Linked DNA regions of Homo sapiens: all the other regions are linked to region 4. The links come from fine-mapping of genetic effects on gene expression. A gene starts in region 4. Each other region holds a variant in brackets. All regions are shown on one strand. Distances are from middle to middle.

Evidence for each region. PIP is the estimated chance that this variant, and not a neighbour inherited with it, causes the effect.
Region 1: its variant is the best candidate, but not a certain one, in a credible set for the expression of SEL1L3 in monocytes after LPS (Quach 2016, PIP 0.75).
Region 2: its variant is the best candidate, but not a certain one, in a credible set for the expression of SEL1L3 in B cells (CEDAR, PIP 0.70).
Region 3: its variant is the best candidate, but not a certain one, in a credible set for the expression of SEL1L3 in prefrontal cortex (CommonMind, PIP 0.82).

Annotation. Positions count from the first base shown.
Region 1 is chr4:25,836,942-25,842,093 of GRCh38, reverse strand. The region is part of intron 2 of SEL1L3 (SEL1L family member 3); the gene reads left to right. Among named protein-coding and RNA genes, the nearest start is that of SEL1L3, 23 kb to the left of the region's middle. The variant G/T (reference allele first, on the strand shown) is at 2,668.
Region 2 is chr4:26,642,135-26,647,286 of GRCh38, reverse strand. All of the region lies in intron 7 of TBC1D19 (TBC1 domain family member 19), which reads right to left. Among named protein-coding and RNA genes, the nearest start is that of TBC1D19, 61 kb to the right of the region's middle. The variant C/A (reference allele first, on the strand shown) is at 3,050.
Region 3 is chr4:25,712,176-25,717,327 of GRCh38, reverse strand. It overlaps a transcript of SEL1L3 not described here. Among named protein-coding and RNA genes, the nearest start is that of SLC34A2, 59 kb to the right of the region's middle. The variant AG/G (reference allele first, on the strand shown) is at 2,750.
Region 4 is chr4:25,860,357-25,865,508 of GRCh38, reverse strand. It overlaps SEL1L3 (SEL1L family member 3), which reads left to right and starts at 2,521. Exons shown (of 24, transcript NM_015187.5): 1 at 2,521-2,834. The coding sequence starts at 2,673. LOC102723733 (a long non-coding RNA gene) reads right to left here and starts at 4,382. Exons shown (of 2, transcript XR_427503.5): 1 at 3,356-4,382. It overlaps LOC124900688 (a long non-coding RNA gene), which reads left to right. Exons shown (of 3, transcript XR_007058092.1): 3 at 103-301. RefSeq lists silencers at 2,288-2,447, 2,498-2,957, 3,228-3,522.

The DNA.
Region 1 (5,152 bases), 23 kb after region 4:
TAAAGATGAGGACAAAGCCACCCTCTTTAACATGGCTACCAATAGTTACAGTCACTTACTGCTACTGAACATTTGCTATGTGCCAGGCACTGTCAAAGTGCTTTATGTGGTTTACGTGGTTATCTAATTTTTTTGAGACAGGGTCTTGCTCTGTCACCCAGGCTGGAGTGCAGTGGCGCGATCTCAGCTCACTGCACCCTCCGCCTCCCAGGTTCATGCGATTCTCCTGCCTCAGCCTCCCGAGTAGCTGGTGTTACAGACACGTGCCACCACACCCAGCTAATTTTTGTATTTTCAGTAGAGATGGTGTTTCGCTATGTTGGCCAGGCTGGTCTCAAACTCCTGTCCTCAAGTGATCTGCCTGCATCGGCCCCCAAAGTGCAGGGATTACAAAGTGCTGGGTGAACTACAGCGCCTGGCCCGCTGTTATTTAATTTAATATGCCCAATATTCCACCAAGGAGAAAACAGAAAACTGACTCAGAGAGATAGAGTAGTTTGTCTAAGTTTGCACAGCTATTAATGAAGATGCTGGAGTTTGAACCTGGATAGTTTGGTTCCCAAACCCCACACTTATTCATTAGGCTAAACTACCAGGTGATGTCATGAAGCTATTTATTTATTTTAAGTCATTCATTCACTGAAAAAAAGTTCCTGAGCAATCTGTGTGTGTTAAGCACTTTGTGTGGCTTCTTCAGAGGAGGTGACATTTTGACAGAGACTTGAAGGATGTGTAGAGTTTTCATGGATCAAAAAGGAGGGGCTGGGTGCAGTGGCTCACGCCTGTGATCCCAGCACTTTGGGAGGCTGAGGCAGGCAGATCACTTGAGGCCAGGAGTTAGAGACCAGCCTAGCCAACATGGTGAAAGCCCATCTCTACTAAAAATACAGAAAATTAGCCAGGCATGGTGGCATGCATCTGTGGTCCCAGCTACTTGGGGGGCTGAGGTGGGAGAATTGCTTGAATTCAGGAGATGGAGGCTGCAGTGAGCCAAAATGGTGCCACTGCACTCCAGCCTGGGTGACAGAGCAAGACTCTGTCTCAAAAAAAGAGAAGAAGAAGGAAAAAAAAAAAAGGAATGAAAGAAGGACATTGAGCTTTCAGGCAGAGGGGAAGGCATAAGCTGTGGCACACAAAGGAGAAAATTCCGGATTGGGAAATGGTGATAAGCCTTTGTTCCTTGACGGGAAAGATGGCAACAAGGGCTTCATCTCACAGGCTAGCTTGTGTTGCTTGGGGGTGGCTGCCTAGAGCATGGTGTTGAGTAGGATTCTGAGGATGAGTCTGCACTTACTGAGAAAGAGTGCCATGTCCATCAGTTACTGTCTGCCATGGAGTGGAAATGTGGACTAGCAGCACACTTGCTGTGGTTTATTTTCCAAGGTATAATCTCAGGTGTGACATGGGCAATTCAAGAAGTAAGACTGGATAAGCAGTTTAGGAACACTCTTGGAAGGTTCTTAAATGCCCTAATGTTTAGCTTTATGAACACTTCTCTGATCTTCCCTCTTAAATAAGAAACTCTGGGGCAACATGGCAGTTTTCTTCTTCTCCACTCTTTTCGTTTCAAAAATGCATTCTCATCTTCAGATCCAATGGACTGGAAGTATGATTTTTTATAACAAAATTTCATTACAACAAAATGATTGAAAGTTAAGTCAAGTGTTGGAACCAGCCTTGACTTGTCTTTGTGAAAAAAAATGGTTTATGCAGCAGGACTATTCAAGTCAATGTCATGATAGTACTTTTAGTAGTTATAAACTATATATTTGGCATTAAAAAAAACAGACCTAGTTCCTTTTTTTCCAGTTAATCATGGTAGTCTGAATTTTTCAGTAATAACACTAATTAATGCCTAGCATCTACATTCCCCTTTATGATTTTTCGAAACACTTTTTTCACACACATTGTCTCATTTAATCCTCATAATAGTACCATGGGAAAGACAGTATTATTCTCAACCTTTCTTTAACAAAGAGGAAAACCGAGGCTCAGGGAGTTTGTTTAACTGGAGTCCAGACTTCCTGATTCTTTTGACTTTGCTATGCCGCCTCTCTGAAATATGCTAATACAGTCCTAACCCAGGTTCTAAATTAGAAAGAATACTTTTTTTAAAGTTGAATTTTTATCGATGTGAATCATCCTGTTTTCTTCACCCACTGGACTTTGTGTCTTTGAAGCGGATTGGGCAGACTTGGAGGCCGAGGGTGGGGAGGCCTTGGGATGTAGCTGGCTCCTTCTATATGCCTGCCCGGAAGTGCTCAGAGCTTTTGTTCTTTTCTTTCGTAGACGAAAAAGTAATACGTGTACACGGTAACAATAAAAAAATTTAAATAGCGTGAAAAGGTTTAGGGGAACGAGTAAGTTTCCACACCCCTCCCCCTCGAATCTTCTGGTCCTTTTCCCAGAAGTAAATTCATTAGCAACAGTTTCTTGTGTTTCCTTCTAGAAATGTTCTCTGCACATACAAGCGTTAAGTTGTGTCCCGTTTTCTTCCTGCACAAATGAGAGGATTCTAGAAACAGACCTGCGCTCATTAACAATACAGTAGATTTTTCTGTACCAGGACATGCTGCCGACCTCATTCTTTTCAACAGCTCCTTAGCGTTGCATCGCCTGACAGACCGTAATTTATTTAACCTATCTTTTGCTGATGATCATGCTGTT[G/T]CTTTTAACCACAAGGCTTCACTGAACATCCCTGTACATGTATCTCTGTGCACACTCATAAGCATGTTTGGAGGATAAATTACTAGGAGTAGAACTGGTTTTATTCTTAAGATTCCTGCCATCGAATGTTCCACAGACTTCCTTAGGAACCTGCTTCACTGCCTAGTATCCTTTCTGGAGGAAGTTCTGACCTAAATCATATCTGCTAGAAAATCGAGTTTTTATTCTCAGACTTTGGCTTTAAAGAAAATTAAACACCTTATTGGCCACTGGCTTTTGAATGTCCTGTGTTTGGAAAGCATTATTGAGCTGCCTGTGCTCTGGCTTTATTTCTCCAGGTTGAGAAATCTTCGCTTCTTTCCCCGCAGATTTTGCTTACAGACTTGTAGTCATTGTGATTCCTTGCATTGAGACCATCTTCAGCTTCTCTGAAGGTGGGCTGATGATCTCAGTGGCTTCATTGCTGTGTGTTCGAAGCACATCTGGAGTGGGGTTTTGTTACACAGAAGTGTTACCTTTGTTACGTGGAAGTGTTACCTTTTCCCAAGCAAGGGATCTGTGTCAGGGTTCTGATCACTCAGCTGAACCAGAGAATGGGCTACATAATCGTCCCTTAACCCCACCTGACCCAGGGATGAGATTTAACATATTTAACAACCAGTGAGGGGTGGGGGCCTCGGTGAACTCCAGTGGGTGCTAGCCTTAGTGCTGAAGCCGGCTCCAGAGGCCGCTGTTGGGCCAGGCTCTAACTTGAAGGAGGGGCCAGGGTGGGTGGCGGGGCCTTGGAGGTTCAAGGTGACATCAATTATCAAACCAAAATAGAAATATTTCAGTGTTTTAGCAACCAGTATATCCGCACAGGTCATGCCCACTGAATATCAGCCGAGGTTCTCTCTGGGAGGACTTGTGAGAAGAAAAGCCCATTGGTTTGCAGTGGGGAGGCCAGGTTTGAGTCATATTAGAGCTTCTTCTAGCTATGAAATCTTCAATAAGACACTCACACTTTTCTTGTCTCCAAATGGAGGGGTTTGCACCATATAATATCTGTTGCCTCTTCTTGCTCTAAAATTTGAGGAAATAATACAAGCAAAACAGCAAAGGGTTCCTAACATCAACTGTTTTCCTGGCATTCTATGTTTATGTCTTAATGGTGTCTTTGTTTGTTTGTTTGTTTAACCTAAGCTCTTCATGCAAAATAAGCTAAAGAAATGAATGTGGGGAAAGGATTTGAAAGAAGAAAGGTCATTCTTTGGCTTACGCAGTGTGGTGCACATTACAGAATTGTGGACAGTACTAGGAGGAAGGGAGACAGGTTCAAATCCTGACTTGGCCACACCTATATTCATTCATTCATCAAATATTTATGGGGTCTTTATCAAGTACTGCACACTGTTCTAGATTCTGGGGATGGAATAGTGAATAAGTAAGGCCCCTGCTTTAATGAGTACATCCTAGAGGCAAAGCAGTAAACTTCTTTGGACCTAAGTTTTCCTACCTGTAAATTATTTAGTGGTGGATGGCACTGGTATTGTTGCTACCCATTCCACTGCCCATGACAAGACATCACTAGTCAATTATAGCATTGCACTCAGCCATAACCAGTTATTAGACAATAGATCTATATGTTATCCTGATAAATAACATATAGGATAAATAACATATCCTATATGTTATTCAGATGAATTTTAAAGTCTTCTCCTGCTCCAAAATTAATTCTTGTTCATTACCTCTAATTGTAATCAAAAGACAGTATCATACTGAGGGCAAACTGCACTAGGAATCCAAATTATACACATCGCAAAGCTACAGATTTGAAAGAAAACTACCATTACTTTGGTTTTGTTGGGTACAAACGGTATGTGTTCTTGTAAAATTATTTTAGATCTTTGGGGCTGAGCTTTTTCCTTCATAATCTATTGCGGCAAGTTCTCCCGTTTGACCTGCTTTATTTTGGTCTTTGGACAGGGAAGAGCTCATTGTCATTCACGTTTAACTCTTTCCACTTTAGAAACCTCCTTTATGAAGCTTTTTTTTTTAATTGGAGTCAGGTTGGGCAGAATTGAATCCCATTTGTTTTGACAAATGTTTCCACTGCACACTAGATCACTCAACAGCCATCACCAGCAGAAGGCTTCCTAGGGGTCTAACGTGGCCATCTGGTCTCTTCTGCTCCACTCAACATAGTGGAAGCCAAACCAAAGTTGAGCTGATGTCAACTTCCTTGGTGAATTTTTCCTTCAGATTCCAAAGAAAACCTTTGCAGTACTTCCATTTCTCACCCCTCTCACCACCCCCGTCATAGACCAGCAAGTCCAGTGGGCCCAAATTGAGCTCAAATTGAAAAAACAAAGGGTTTCAAGTGCTTCTGTTGAAATTGATAACTCCACTCTTTTGGATTTCCAAATGCATCTCTACTTGTAACAAACCATGAAGATTTGTGGCTACTGGGGAGAAATTGGCTTATTTAATCTTATTAAAATACACA
Region 2 (5,152 bases), 780 kb before region 4:
TCAGCTTATCACCTTCACTAACAGCCCTGTTCCTCCTCCTGTATCCTCTATCTCATGTCAAGTAACTTCTAGCCAATTACACAACCTAGATACTTGAAGGTGATCATTATCTTTTCTTTTTCTCATAGACCCCGTATCTGATCAGTTCCCAAATCATCCTTAAAATCTCTTTCAAATCCATCAAATTGTTTCCATTTCCAGTGTTGTTGTCTTAGTTCAGACACTCATCATGTCTTCTGGACTACTAGAACAGGGAATGGAATAAAAAAGAAAAAGATTTCCTGAGTATGTATATGTGCCAGGCAGCAGGCTATGTGATGTACAGTCACTATTCTTTTTCATTATTTTACTTTTTTTAAATTATACTTTAAGTTCTAGGGTACATGTGCAGGTTTGTTACATATGTATACATGTGCCCGTGTTGGTTTGCTGCACTCATTAACTTATCATTTACATTAGGTATTTCTCCTAATGCTATCCCTCCCCCATTCCCCCACCTCAGTGTGTGATGTTTCCCACCCTGTGTCCAAGTGTTCTCATTATTCAATTCCCACCTATGAGTGAGAACATGCAGTGTTTGGTTTTCTGTTCTTGCGATAGTTTGCTCAGAATGATGGTTTCCCACTTCATCCATGTTGCTATAAAGGACATGAACTCACCCTTTTTAATGGCTGCATAGTATGTGCCACATTTTTTTAATCCAGTCTATTATTGATGGACATTTAGGTTGGTTCCAAGTCTTTGCTATTGTGAATAGTACCGCAATAAACATATCTGTGCATGTATCTTTATAGTGGCATGATTTACAATTCTTTGGGTATATACCCAGTAATGGGATCACTGAGGCAAATGGTATTTCTAGTTCTAGATCCTTGAGGAATCACCACACTGTCTACCACAGTGGTTGAACTAGTTTACACTACCAATAGTGTAAAAGCGTTCCAATTTCTCCACATCCTCTCCAGCACCTGTTGTTTCCTGACTTTTTAGTGATCACCATTCTAACTGGTGTGAGATGGTATCTCATTGTGGTTTTGATTTGCATTTCTCTGATGGCCAGTGATGGTGAGCATTTTTTCATGTGTCTGTTGGCTGCATAAATGTCTTCTTTTGAAAAGTGTCTGTTCACATCCTTTGCCCACTTTTTTTTTTTTTTTTTTTTTTGAGACGGAGTCTCGCTCTGTCGCCCAGGCTGGAGTGCAGTGGCGGGATCTCGGCTCACTGCAAGCTCCGCCTCCCGGGGTCACGCCATTCTCCTGCCTCAGCCTCCCAAGTAGCTGGGACTACAGGCGCCCGCCACTACGCCCGGCTAATTTTTTGTATTTTTAGTAGAGACGGGGTTTCACCGTTTTAGCCGGGATGGTCTCGATCTCCTGACCTCGTGATCCGCCCGCCTCGGCCTCCCAAAGTGCTGGGATTACAGGCGTGAGCCACCGCGCCCGGCCCTTTGCCCACTTTTTGATGGGGTTGTTTTTTTCTTGTAAATGTGTTTAAGTTCTTTGTAGATTCTGGATATTAACCCTATGTCACATGGGTAGATTGCAAAAATTTTCTCCCATTCTGTAGGTTGCCTGTTCACTCTGATGGTAGTTTCTTTTGCTGTGCAGAAGCTCTTTCATATAATTAGTTCCCATTTGTCAATTTTGGCTTTTGTTGCCATTGCTTTTGGTGTTTTAGACGTGAAGTCCTTGCCCATGCCTATGTCCTGAATGGTATTGCCTAGGTTTTCTTCTAGGGATTTTATGGTTTTAGGTCTCACATTTAAGTCTTTAATCAATCTTGAATTAACTTTTGTATAAGGTGTAAGGAAGGGATCCAGTTTCAGCTTTCTACATATGGATAGCTAGTTTTCCCAGCACCATTTATTAAATAGGGAATCCTTTCCCCATTTCTTGTTTTTGTCAGGTTTGTCAAAGTTCAGATGGCTGTAGATGTGTGGTGTTATCTCTGAGGCTGCTGTTCTGTTCCATTGGTCTACATCTCTGTTTTGGTACCAGTACCATGCTCTTTTGGTTACTGTAGCCTTGTAGTACAGTTTGAAGTCAGGTAGCGTGATGCCTCCAGCTTTGTTCTTTTTGTTTAGGATTGTCTTGGCACTGCGGGCTCTTTTTTGGTTCCATATGAACTTTAAAGTAGTTTTTTCCAATTCTGTGAAGAAAGTCAGTGGTAGCTTGATGGGGATGGCATTGAATCTATAAATTACTTTGGGCAGTATGGCCATTTTCACGATTTTGATTCTTCCTATCCATGAGCATGGAATGTTCTTCCATTTGTTTGTGCCTCACTTTGGGCAGTATGGCCATTTTCACGATTTTGATTCTTCCTATCCATGAGCATGGAATGTTCTTCCATTTGTTTGTGTCCTCTTTTATTTCATTGAACAGTGGTTTGTAGTTCTCCTTCAAGAGGTCCTTCACATCCCTTGTAAGTTGGATTCCTAGGTATTTTATTCTCTTTGTAGCAATTGTAAATGGGAGTTCACTCATAATTTGGCTCTCTGTTTGCCTGTTATTGGTGTATAAGAATGTTTGTGATTTTTGCACATTGATTTTGTATCCTGAGACTTTGCTGAAGTTGCTTATCAGCCTAAGGAGATTTGCAGCTGAGATGATGGGATCTTCTAAATATACAATCATGTCATCTGCAAACAGGGACAGTTTGACTTCCTCTTTTCCTAATTGAAAACCTTTATTTCTTTCTCTTGCCTGATTGCCATGGCCAGAACTTCCAACACTATGTTGAATAGGAGTGGTAAGAGAAGGTATCCCTCTCTTGTGCCAGTTTTCAAAGGGAATGCTTCCAGTTTTTGCCCATTCAGTATGATACTGGCTGTGGGTTTGTCATAAATAGCTCTTATTATTTTGAGATACGTTCCATCAATACCTAGTTTATTGAGAGTTTTTAGCATGTAGGCTGTTGAATTTTGTCGAAGGCCTTTTCTGCATCTATTGAGATAATCATGTGATTTTTGTCTTTGGTTCTGTTTATGTGATGGATTATGTTTATTGATTTGCATACATTGAACCAGCCTTGCATCCCAGGGATGAAA[C/A]CGACTTGATCTTGGTGGATAAGCTTTTTGATATGCTGCTGGATTTGGTTTGCCAATCTTTTATTGAGAATTTTCACATCAATGTTCATCGGGGTATTGGTCTAAAATTTTCTTTTTTTGCTGTGTCTCTGCCAGGCTTTGGTATCCGGATGATGCTGGTGTCATAAAATGAGTTAAGGAGGATTCCCTCTTTTTCTATTGATTGGAATAGTTTCAGAAGGAATGGTACCAGCTCCTCTTTGTACCTCTGGTAGAATTCGGCTGTGAATCCATCTCGTCATAGACTTCTTTTGGTTGGGAGGCTATTAATTATTGCCTCAATTTCAGAGCCTGTTATTGGCCTATTCAGTGATTCAACTTCCTGGTTTGGTCTTGGGAGGGCGTATGTGTCGAGGAATTTATCCATTTCTTCCAGATTTTCTAGTTTATTTGTGCAGAGGTGTTTATAGTATTCTCTGATGGTAGTTTGTATTTCTGTGGAATCGGTGGTGATATTCCCTTTAGCATTTTTTATTGCATCTATTTGATTCTTCTCTCTTTTCTTCTTTATTAGTTTTGCTAGCATTCTACCAATTTTGTTGATCTTTTCAAAAAACCAACTCCTGGATTCACTGATTTTTTGAAGGGTTTTTTGTGTTTCTATCTCCTTCAGTTCTGCTCTGATCTTAGTTATTTCTTGCCTTCTGCTAGCTTTTGAATGTGTTTGCTCTTGCTTCTCTAGTTCTTTTAATTGTGATGTTAGGGTGTCAATTTTAGATCTTTCCTGCTTTCTCTTGTGGGCATTTAGTGCTATAAATTTCCCCCTACGCACTGCTTTAAATGTGTCCCAGAGATTCTGGTATGTTTCTCTTTGTTCTCATTGGTTTCAAAGAGCATCTTTATTTCTGCCTTCATTTCGTTATGTACCCAGTAGTCATTCAGGAGCAAGTTGTTCAGTTTCCATGTAGTTGTGCGGTTTTGAGTAAGTTTCTTAATCCTGAGTTCTAATTTGATTGCACTGTGGTCTGAGAGACAGTTTGTTGTGATTTCTGTTCTTTTACATTTGCTGAGGAGTGCTTTACTTCCAACTATGTGATCAATTTTGAAATAAGTGCGATGTGGTGCTGAGAAGAATGTATATTCTGTTGATTTGGGGTGGAGGGTTCTGTAGATGTCTATTAGATCAGCTTGGGGCAGAGCTGAGATCAAGTCCTGGATATCCTTGTTAACCTTCTGTCTCATTGATCTGTCTAATATTGACAGTGGGGTGTTAAAGTCTCCCATTATTGTGTGGGAGTCTAAGTCTCTTTTTAGGTGTCTCAGGACTTGCTTTTTGAATCTGGGTGCTTCTATATTGGGTGCAAATATATTTAGGATAATTAGCTCTTCTTGTTGAATTGATCCCTTACCATTATGTAATGGCCTTCTTTGTCTCTTTTGATCTTTGTTTGTTTAAAGTCTGTTTTATCAGAGACTAGGATTGTAACTCCTGCTCTTTTTGTGCTTTCCATTTGCTTGGCAGATCTTCCTCCATCCCTTTATTTTGAGCCTATGTTTGTCTCTGCATGTGAGATGAGTCTCCTGAATACAGCACACTGATAGGTCTTGACTCTTTATCCAATTTGCCAGTCTGTGTCTTTTAATTGGGGAATTTAGCCCATTGACATTTAAGGTTAATATTGTTATGTGTGGATTTGATCCTGTCATTATGATGTTAGCTGGTTATTTTGCTCATTAGTTGATGCAGTTTCTTCTTAGCATCGATGGTCTTTACAATTTGGCATGTTTTTGCAGTGGCTGGTACCAGTTGTTCCTTTCCATGTTTAGTGCTTCCCTCAGGAGCTCTTTTAGGGCAGGCCTGGTGGTGACAAAATTTCTCAGTATTTGCTTGTCTGTAAAGGATTTTATTTCTCCTTCACTTACGAAGCTTAGTTTGGCTGGATATGAAATTCTGGGTTGAAAATTCTTTTCTTTAAGAATGTTGAATATTGGCCCCCAGTCTCTTCTGGCTTGTAGGGTTTTTGCTGAGAGATCTGCTGTTAGTCTGATGGGCTTCCCTTTGTGGGTAACCCAACCTTTCTCTCTGGCTGCCCTTAACATGTTTTCCTTCATTTCAACCTTGGT
Region 3 (5,152 bases), 150 kb after region 4:
ATTCTTCCCTACTCCTATCGTGGTAGAAAAAAACCTAGTTCTTGTCACACAGCCAGGAAAAGGTTCATCCTCCCTCTATGCCCAGAGGTAACCATGACTTGAATTTAATGGGGTTTTTTTTATTTTTAATTTTTGTGCTACATAGTAGGTGTATATATTTATGGATTACATGAGTTTTGTTTTTGTTTTTGTTTGTTTTTCAAGACAGGGTCTCACTCTGTCATCCAGGCTGGAGAGCAGTGGTGTGATCTCGGCTCACTGCAACCTCTGACTCCTGGGTTCAAGTGATCCTCTCACCTCAGCCTCCCAAGTAGCTGGGACTACAGGCATGCACTACCATGCCCGGCTAATTTTTCTATTTTTAATAGTGACAGGGTTTCACCATGTTGACCAGGCTGGTCTCGAACTCCTGGGCTCAAGAGATCCATCTGCCTTGGCCTCCAAAGGTTCTGGGGTTACAGGCATGAGCCACCGCACCTGGCCTTTTTTTGAATTTAGTGTTTCTAATTCCATTGTACTTGTCATACTCTTACTACATATGTAGATTAGCACAAAAATTACATAGAATTATTTGAATGTTTTAAAATTTTATTTAAGTAATATTCTTTAAACCATTTGCTTTTCAACTCCAGCTTACGTGTTTACACTTTATTCTCATTGATACATATAGGAATCTTGGAATAGGAATATTGCTATATAATGTTCAATTTTGTAATAACATTATTTATTCATTTTCTTGTTGATTTTTGTTAATACAAATAATATATCAATGGATATTTTGTACGTATCTTTTAAAGCAAATGTTCTAGAAGTTTTCTAGATTATGTACCCAAAAGTGCAATTACTGTGTCAAAGGGCATGCATATTTTCTACTTTATTGCCATGTAGTTCTCCAATGTGGTAATACCAATTTACATTCCTGCCAGCAAGCTATGAATGTTCTCTATGTTCTATATCCTCACCAATACTTGAATGTGTCAGAATTTAAAACGTTTCCCAATCAACTGTAGTAAAATGATAGCTCATTTTAATATATAGTTTCCTGATCACTATAATAAGCCTTTCTTATTATGTTAATTGGCCATTTACATTTCTTCTTCTGTGAGTGTTTTGATCATATTTTCTGTTCATTTTCATATTGGATTTTTTTTTCTTATTGATTTGGAACTCTGGATACGAATCTTTTCTCAGTTACGTGTATTGAAAATATATTCTCCTACTGTCTTTTAACCTCTTATGATACCTTTTATTATATCAAAAATTTTAACTTCAATGTAGCAAATGTGTTCAATTTTAATATATTGCTCTTTCTTTTGAAAGATAATGCATACAGCACATAGCTTAAACTTCAAGAGGTACAAAAGAGCATATAGTAAAAGGTCTATTCTCTGCCTCTTCAAATCACCCAATTCCCTTTAGTGTCCTCCCAGAATTATGCACATAAAAGCAAAATACAATAAATATTTTCACTTTTTTAATCCAAATATTAGTGTACACTGTTATGCATCTTGGGTTTTTTTTTCTTCCTTTACTATATAACCTGGAGATTATTCCACACCAGTAATATATTTAAGAGAGTTTCTTTGTTGTTTTATAGCTATATAATATTCCATAATATGAATGTACTATAATTTATATTTAACAAGATTAATATTTAGTGGCTTCTTTCCCATATTTTGTTGTTACAAACAATGGTGCACTGAGTAACCTTGTTCTTTTATCATGGCACACGCGTGTGTAGATGTCTAGGGAAAACATTTTTAGATATGGAAATGGCCAAAGAGTAGGTACAATTGTAATTTTGACAGATATTGCCAAATTTCCACCATAGGGGTTGTAAAAATTTGCTCCCCACAGCATTGTAAAAGGGTCTATTTCCTCTACCATGGACAATAACATAAGTCAGACTTCTGGATTTTTACCAACCCGATAGGTGAAAAATGGGATCTCAATGTAGTTTTTATTTGCATTTCTTTTTTAAAAAATATAATTTTTAAAAATTGAGAGCGTGTCTTGCTCTGTTGCCCACGCTGGTCTCCAACTCCTGGACCCAAGTGATGGTCCTGCCTCAATCTCCCAAAGTGCTGGGATTACAGGTGTGAGCCACCATGCCTGACCATTGATTTGTATTTCTGTTATTATTAACGAAGTTGAACATAGGGTGCAAAAATTTAGTATTTTTAGATTCTTAAGACCACTTATGTATACTTTTCTGTGATCTATCTGTTTCTATCGAATTATTGCTACTTTATTGATTTGAAAATGTTCTTTCTTGTTGAAATTAGCTCTTTGTCTGTGACATAAGTTGTAGTGGTTGTTCCCATGCATATGATTCAACTTATTTGTTTTTGTTTTATGATTTGAGCTTTCTCTGCTTTTGTTAGGTTTTTTCCTGATCTGATGTCATCAAAATATTATCCTACATTTCAAAAAACTTTGTAATATTTTGCATTCTTGGCAGGGCGCGGTGGCTCACACCTGTAATCTCAGCACCTTGGGAGGCTGAAGCAGGCAGATCACTTAAGGCCAGAAGTTCAAGACCAGCCTGGGCAAAATGGAGAAACCCCATCTCGACTAAAAAATACAAAAATTAGCCGGGCATGGTGGTGCATGCCTGTAATCCCAGCTACTCAGGAGGCTGAGGCAGAGAATTTCTTGAACCCAGAAGATGGAGGTTGCAGTGAGCCAAAATTGCACCACTGCACTCCAGCCTGGGTGAGAGAGCAAGACTCTGTCTCAAAAAAAAAAA[AG/G]AAAAAGAAGGAAAGAAAGAAAGAAGAAAGAAAGAAAGAAAGAAAGAAAGAAAGAAAGAAAGAAAGAAAGAAAGAAAAAGAAAGAAAGAGAAAGAAAGAAAGCAATTTTATTTTATTGTCCATATACATAAGTAGCTGTACCATTTATTGAATAATCCTTTTCATCCCAGCAGACTGGTAATGGCACTTTTGGAGATGATGAAATTTGCAATGTATATGAGGCTCTATTTCTGAGTTCCCTGTTCTAGCCCTCTGGTCCATTCCAGTGCTTAGTAACCTTTGTACATCATTTTCACATAGAAAATGATCATCTTCGCAAGGTACTTTGGAGTATATGAAAAAGGCTGGTGGTCCCATGGGGCTTCAGCTACTGCAGGCCCCCTCACTTTATGACATGAACTCAATCTCATAAAGATTTCAAGTCCCCCCAAAATTCATCTGTAAACTCACCTAATTTTAAAATTTTTTTGGAAGAGCAAAGGGACAAAAAGTACTTAAGACAACTTTGGAGAAAGACAAAGAGGAGTGACTTGCCTTATCAGACAAATCATTTAAATTGCATCATCACTGGTGGTTCACGTGTGGGAAAAATAAATAGATAAATTGCATCCTCATCTTTTTTTAAGGCTTTTAATGAAGTTTTATAATTTCTATCCTAAAGGTTTAACAAATATTTTGTTAAATCTATTCTTTGGCCGGGCACGGTGTCTCATGCCTGTAATCCTAGCACTTAGGAAGGCCGAGGCAGGCAGATTGCCTGAGCTCAGGAGTCCAAGACCAGCCTGCACAACATGGAGAGACCCCGTCTCTACTAAAATACAAAAGATTAGCTGGGTGTGGTGGTGGGCGCTTGTAGTTCCAGCTACTCGGGAGGCTGAGGCAGGAGAATTGCTTGAACCCAGGAGGCGGAAGTTGCAGTAAGCCGAGATCAAGCCACTGCACTCCAGCCTAGAAGACAGAGCGAGACTCCGTCTCAAAAAAAAAACAAAAAACAAAAAAACTATTATTTGATATATTGCTGTTTTGCGGATATTATAAACTGTTCTTTTCTCCCCTTCCTTAAAGAGTCAGGAGAACATAATGATGAAGATGATAAAATAATCATCATCATCATCATTCATCATCATGATCATCATCTTGATGGCAAATAGCTACCACTTATATAGCCAAGGACTACTCAAAGGACTTCACATATTTTAACTAATTTATCTCTATAAAAACCCTACTAAGTTTCCCGGTTCAGTGGCTCATGCCTGTAATCCCATCACTTTGGGAGGCCGAGGCGGGCATATCACTTGAGGTCAGAAGTTGGAGACCAGCCTGGCCAACATGGCAAAACCCTGCCTCTACTAAAAATGCAAAAATTAGCCAGGCATGATGACATGCTCCCAGCTACTTGGGAGGCTGAGGCACAAGAATCACTCAAACTCAGGAGGTGGAGGTTGCAGTGAGCTGAGATCATGCCACTGCAGTCCAGACCAGGTGACAGAATGATACTGTCTCAAAAAAAAAAAAAAAAAAAAGCAAACAGAGGAAGTAAATTACCTAAATGATAGAAATCTTTCAGCTCCCCTATACAAAGATTAGCCTTGTGTGTGGGTATGTTGAATGTACTGAGCTCCAACTATGGGATTTAAATGTTACCACATGGTTTGCAACATTCATTCTATTGACTGCATTTTATAAATTAAATTATTTTGAAAGTGCCACTCAACTTACATTTGATAAAATCATAAACAGAGAACAGCTCCTCCACTTACACGCAGGGCTGCGACTCTGGAAATTTTCCTCCTCCCTGTCCTTTGTTTGAAGCACTGATCAACTTGTCCTGGGCTCCCTGCTTGTTTCCAGACCAGGGTTTGGAGTGGCTGACTTTTCTTTACCTGCCTCCATGCATATTCCACAGAGATTAAAATCATGTAAGGATCTTTCTCCACCAGTAGGGAAAGAATAGGCTCTTCCACAATTGGTTCTGGCACAACTGAATTCCCACATGCAGAAGTATTATGTTCAACCCCTTCCTCATATCACATACAAAAATTATCTCAGGGCTAGGTGCGGTGGCTCATGCCTGTAATCCCAGCACTTTGGGAGGCCGAGCTGGGCGGATCACTTGAGGTCAGGAGTTCGAGACCAGTCTGGCCAACACGGTGAAACCCCGTCTCTACTAAAAATACAAAAATTAGCCGGGCGTGGTGGCGTGTACCTGTAGTTCCAGCTACTCTACTCGGGAGGCTGAGGCAAGAGAATCTCTTGAACCCGGGAGGCGGAGGTTGCAGTAAGCCAAGATCATGCCACTGCACTCCAGCCTGGGTGACAGAGCAAGACTGTCTAAAAAATAAATAAATAAATAAATCTCAGAATGGATCAACAACCTAAATATAACAGCCATAGTACTCTTA
Region 4 (5,152 bases):
GAGAGACGCAAAAGTAAGAGCTGATTCTGTCTTCTGGATCAAAACGTCCCACTCCCCCGTGAAAAGAAATCTTGACTTTTTCTCTCCCCCTCTCCAACACAGGATGAAGCAGTTAATCCCACCACCTCTAGCTCAGGATGAGAGAGCAACTCACACATCCCTCTTAGAAGACCAAACTCTGGCCGGTTTTCTGCATGCCTGGTGCTCCTTGCAGAAACAGAGCCTTCCTGCCTACCTCTGGAATCCTGGGGCCTCAGGTGGTGCCCAGTCCACAGTAGGAACACAATAGGAGATGAGTGAGTAGGGGAGAAGTGAGCAGTTGGATATGGCAAGTTAGAAACAGTCCAGCCTCCAGTGGGGCACTCTGCTTACCTACACTTAGGTAAACCCAAATCCTCAAAGCTCACAAGGCCTTGAAAACTCCCAATTCCATGAATCCTGATTACAAACAACCCCGAGGAACCATTTAGCTCCCCGAAGACCAACAGAATCTGTGTACAATGTGGGAGGAGAGAAACTCCGGAGCGTGGCCCAGGAAGACAGGTGGCAACCCTAGAAATGCTGCAATGCCTGTTGAAGCCCCTTCCCCCTGAACTGGCCGACAATTTTCCTTCCATATACATTAAAAGCATAGTCTGTATTTTGACCTGATGGAAAAGATATAGACAGGATCTGGGACAAAGCCACCAAATCTTTTGTTCCCTTGGACACTCGATAGAATAAATGTTTTCCACGTCACACAGAAGAATGTTAAGTGCTTTGTTTCTGCAGAAGTGGAACAGAGATAGTGGGAGCATCTGTCAAAACCCCCAAAATGCTTTAATGTGGTGGCAGCTGGCTGGGAGGAGCAGGAGCCCAGTTCCCTAAAAGCCAATAGTTCTGGAAATGGAGGAGGGCTGTTTGAACCAGCGCGTTAACATCACCCAGGAGCTTGTTAGAAAGGTACATTCTCAAGTCCCTCCCAGGACCAACTGAGTCAGAAATTCTAGGGCTGAAGTCCAGGAATCTGTGTTTTAACAATCCCTCCAGGTAATTCTGAAGTTTGAGAACCGGTGGAATAAGGCCAGGGAACTCACACAAGGCCACAGCTCTTAGGTGACCTAAAAAAAAGTGGACGACAGCTGAGGAGCCACCATGCCTGGTGTGGCCAGGCCTGTACTGAAGCAGCTGAGGGCGCGTCCACGCCCGTCAAACCATCCCGGGCACCCCGTCTCACCACCAGCCTCTCCCCGACGTCTGTTGTGACTTGACCTATGCTCGTGGCACAGGGAAAGGGCTGTGGCCTCTCAGGCTCCCAGGCTATTATTAGTTCCAATCCGCACAAATCTACCAGTGCTAAAGGGAAGCTTCTGCGAACTTTGGAAGGTGGATTAACTGTTTCAGAGCAGCAGCTGCGGGCCCAGATAGTTGTCGGAGCCGCTAGACACAGCCAAGCGCTTCCCTGAAAGCCAAGGCCGGCGGCGAGCTGGTGGTCCCGCCGGCCGGAGGCCCCTCCCCGCCAGGCCGCAGAACCCGGGTCGGAGAGCAGCCAGTCTCAACCTGCGTCCCCAAGGCCGAGGATGTGTCCTGGTTTTTTAAAAAGCTGTTTGCGCACTTCCAGGGCCTCACCCCTTTCATTTGGGGCTCCAGTATTACTGTATTGACCTAATTAATTCATTTTTTTCTCAGTCCAAAGTGGAAGCCGGAGCACAGGGATGCAAATCAAATACAAACCCGTCCTGGGTGCCAATACTCTGGACAATTAAAACAAAGAGCGCAGTGGTGGCGGTGGCGGCGGCACCACACAAAACCCTCGGGAAACATCCAGAACGTGCCGCGAACCAGCCGGCAGGGTGGGGCGCAGCCCGGCTGCAAACATGCCAGCAAGGAGGCAGTCCCAACCCCGCAGGTGGACAGGTGGAGGTTGGCAGGGGTCAAAATCCATCCTGAAGGCCTGGGAGCCGGGCAGCTGCGCGGCACAACTCCAGGGGGCACACTCGCCCTGCGCCCTGCGGGAATGGCGCCCCGGCCAAAAAAGCAACCAGACAAAAACCCATTGCACGGGCGGGAACTGGTCTGTGCGACCCGCAAAAGGGGTGGGTGGGAGAGGAAGAATGCGGAAGCGAGGAAGAGGATGGGAAGGGAGAAAGAGGAAAGGGAGGAAAAGGAGAAAGTGAAAAAGAGAGGGGGTTTGGGAGCGCGAGGGGAGAAGGAAGAGGGAGCCGGAGGGAGAGGAGGGGGATCGCAGAGAGCAGGAGCGCGGAAGGGGGGCGGGGGAGGAGCAGAGAGAAAGGGAAAGGGGGGTGCGCCGGGGCCCAGCGACCCGGGCGGGGGGTGGCGGCGGCCAAGGGGCGGGACCCGGGTCGGTGCCCACCTGCGTGGGCGCCCGCTGCTCCGAGGGGTGGAAGCCCGGGGGCCAGAGGGAGCGGCCGGGAGGAGGGCTGGGCAGGGAGGCAGAGGGGAGGGAGGGGACGGGGACGGGGAGGCGGGGAGGAGCCGGCGCTCGGCTGGGGCTGCGGGGGCGGCGACGGCGGGAGCGGCAGTGGCGGCGGCGGCGGGTCCGGAGGTGGCGGCAGGTGGCCCCGCGCGCGGCGGCCGGCCCGGCCGGGGGCGGGCGGGAAGGTGGCGCCTCGGGCGGGGGCCGGTCCCTGCACCAGGTGACCTGTTCCGGCCCGGATCCGGGCGGCCTCGCCATGCAGCGGCGCGGCGCGGGGCTCGGGTGGCCGCGGCAGCAGCAGCAGCAACCCCCGCCGCTCGCGGTCGGCCCCCGGGCCGCAGCCATGGTCCCGAGTGGCGGCGTCCCCCAGGGCCTCGGCGGCCGCTCTGCCTGCGCGCTGCTCCTGCTCTGCTACCTGGTGAGCGCCGGACCCTGCCCGGGTCTTCCCCTCCGCGCGGGGCCCCGGGGACGCGGGTGGGGGCGGCCGGGGACACCCGCCACGCGGGGCGGGGACGCCGCTGCTAGTTTTCTCTCTTCCTCGTCGCTGCGCCCCGGGCGTTCCCGGCACCTGGGATAGGTACCCCGGGCGTGGAGAGGGGCGCTTGGACCGGACTTGCCAAGCTGCTCTCTCGCTCGTGCTCATTCCTTTCCCTCCTGGACTCTCTCTAGACCCGGGTCGGGTTACCCTCGAGACCCCTTCTTGTCCTCGACTCCACCCGGGAGCCTCGCCGCCCGGAGTTCGCTCCCCGCCCCGCCGCGCGCAGTCTCCAGCACCCCCCAACCCCCCACCCCTCCTGGGCTTCCCTCTCAATCTTCTCGCAGCTCCTTTCCTTCCCGTGCCCAACTTCGCCTCTTACTCTCGGCGCCCGCCACCCGCGTCGACCCTCCTTTTAGTTTCCACCGGGTCCTCCCGGCCCGGACAGTTTTCTGCCAACGCACCTCGCATCTCCAGCGCTCTTCAACTCCTCCTTGGTCACTCCAGCCAAGTTGCGGATGCCGGAAAGAAATCTAGTTCTCTGTAACACGCTTACCGCCAGAGTGGTGACTTTAGCTGCGTCTTGAACATTGTCATTTCAGAGAATATGTTTGGCTCATGCATGTCAGTTTGCAATTTGCACACTTCTTGGCTTCTGTTTTAGTCATCAACTAAAGGGCAGTAACCTATTTTTCAAAACCCATTTATTTTAAATACCAGAGTAGCTGAGACCCCTCAGAACAAAGTGGGGAGAAATTTTCTCAGTTCCTTTGAGGGCTTGCTTGCTTCTGTTTTGAGTTCTCCTAAACAATAGTAAATTTACAGAAGGCGACACCCTTCCTGCCCAGAGTAACTTATGTTCCACAATCCTGCAGAAACCTTGGGTTATCTCGCCATATATTACTGTAAATAAATGAAATGGAAAATGCTGAATCATGAAACTGATGTAATAGGAAATTCACAGAATGCCAAAAAAAAAAAAAAAAAGAGCAGTGTCATTGTCCAGAATTCATTTCACTTATGTGGCATTGTCATTATTTGGAGTCTTTCTTTTTGGAAGCTAAAAACTGCTTAGGAGATACTGGCAGAAATTAGAATTTGATTCTGAAGAAATTTGCCACTCAGCCCGTTTCTTTTAACGTTTTTTACTTCTTGAATGTTTCATTTCTTGAAGCAAGAAGGTGTAAAAATGCAAATTATAATTCTGCCTGTGCATCTACCTGTTGAGCAATCCGTGCTTTTACTCATATTTCAGAATTAGCCAATATCAAATTGTGTGGTTGGGCTTACTTCATATTTTCATAAGAAGTTGTCAGTTAACATGAATGATATTTTTTTGCCCAAGAGATATTATTATTTAATATTTATGCCACAAGGTTACAACACACAGGCTCATAAATAAAACTGCCATAACAAATGACAAGATTTCAGTTTAAACAGATGATCCCTGTACACAGGGCCCTGCTGGCTACCCACAGAAGCAGAAGTGATGTAGTAGAGTGTTGCGTGAAACATTCATATACAAATGGGCCGGGCCGAAAAGTTCCACGTGGACATCTCAAGACCTGGCAAGGAGGGGGACTACTTCTGGACAGTTCAGGAAGTCAGAGTCAGGAGAGCAAAGCCTAAGGGCCTAAGTGGACTCTGGAAACAGAGACAGATAATGATGGAGCAAGTATTCCTGTGAAAGTTCTGTGTACACCAAGGGGGATTAAGAGAACAGAGGGAAAAATGATGCCATGGATAGACTCAAGTGAGATAGTGAAGGAGTGAGGAAGGGCTCCGGAAAGAGTAATTTTAGAAAATACTGTGATGTGGAAAATAACTAGAGCATGGATGAATGTCTTGGCAGATGGGGAAGGAATGGATTTGGGGACCTCATGGTGGGGGGAAATGTCAGTGCTTCCTGCCTTTGTATGCTTCCTTCAGATGGACTTCTGATACGCTTACTGTACAAGACAGACTTTGATAAACAAGAGAGCCATTTTGCAAAGGACACAAAAGGCCGACTTAAAAGGTAGTCTCCACATTTTGTTCTGAAGATCTAGCCGTTTACTAGGGATGTTGCTCTTGGGTCTACACTACCCAAGATACTACTGAAGGCAAGGCTTCTTGATCTTGGAGAAGCTTGGTGTGAGAATTGGGGAAAATGTAAATATCCATATGAAACACTTGAAAAACATAAAACAATAGAGAGAAAACGCAAATGTATAATTGTGTGCATTTTGCTCAATCAAGGAATGCTACCTGGAGGAAGTGGT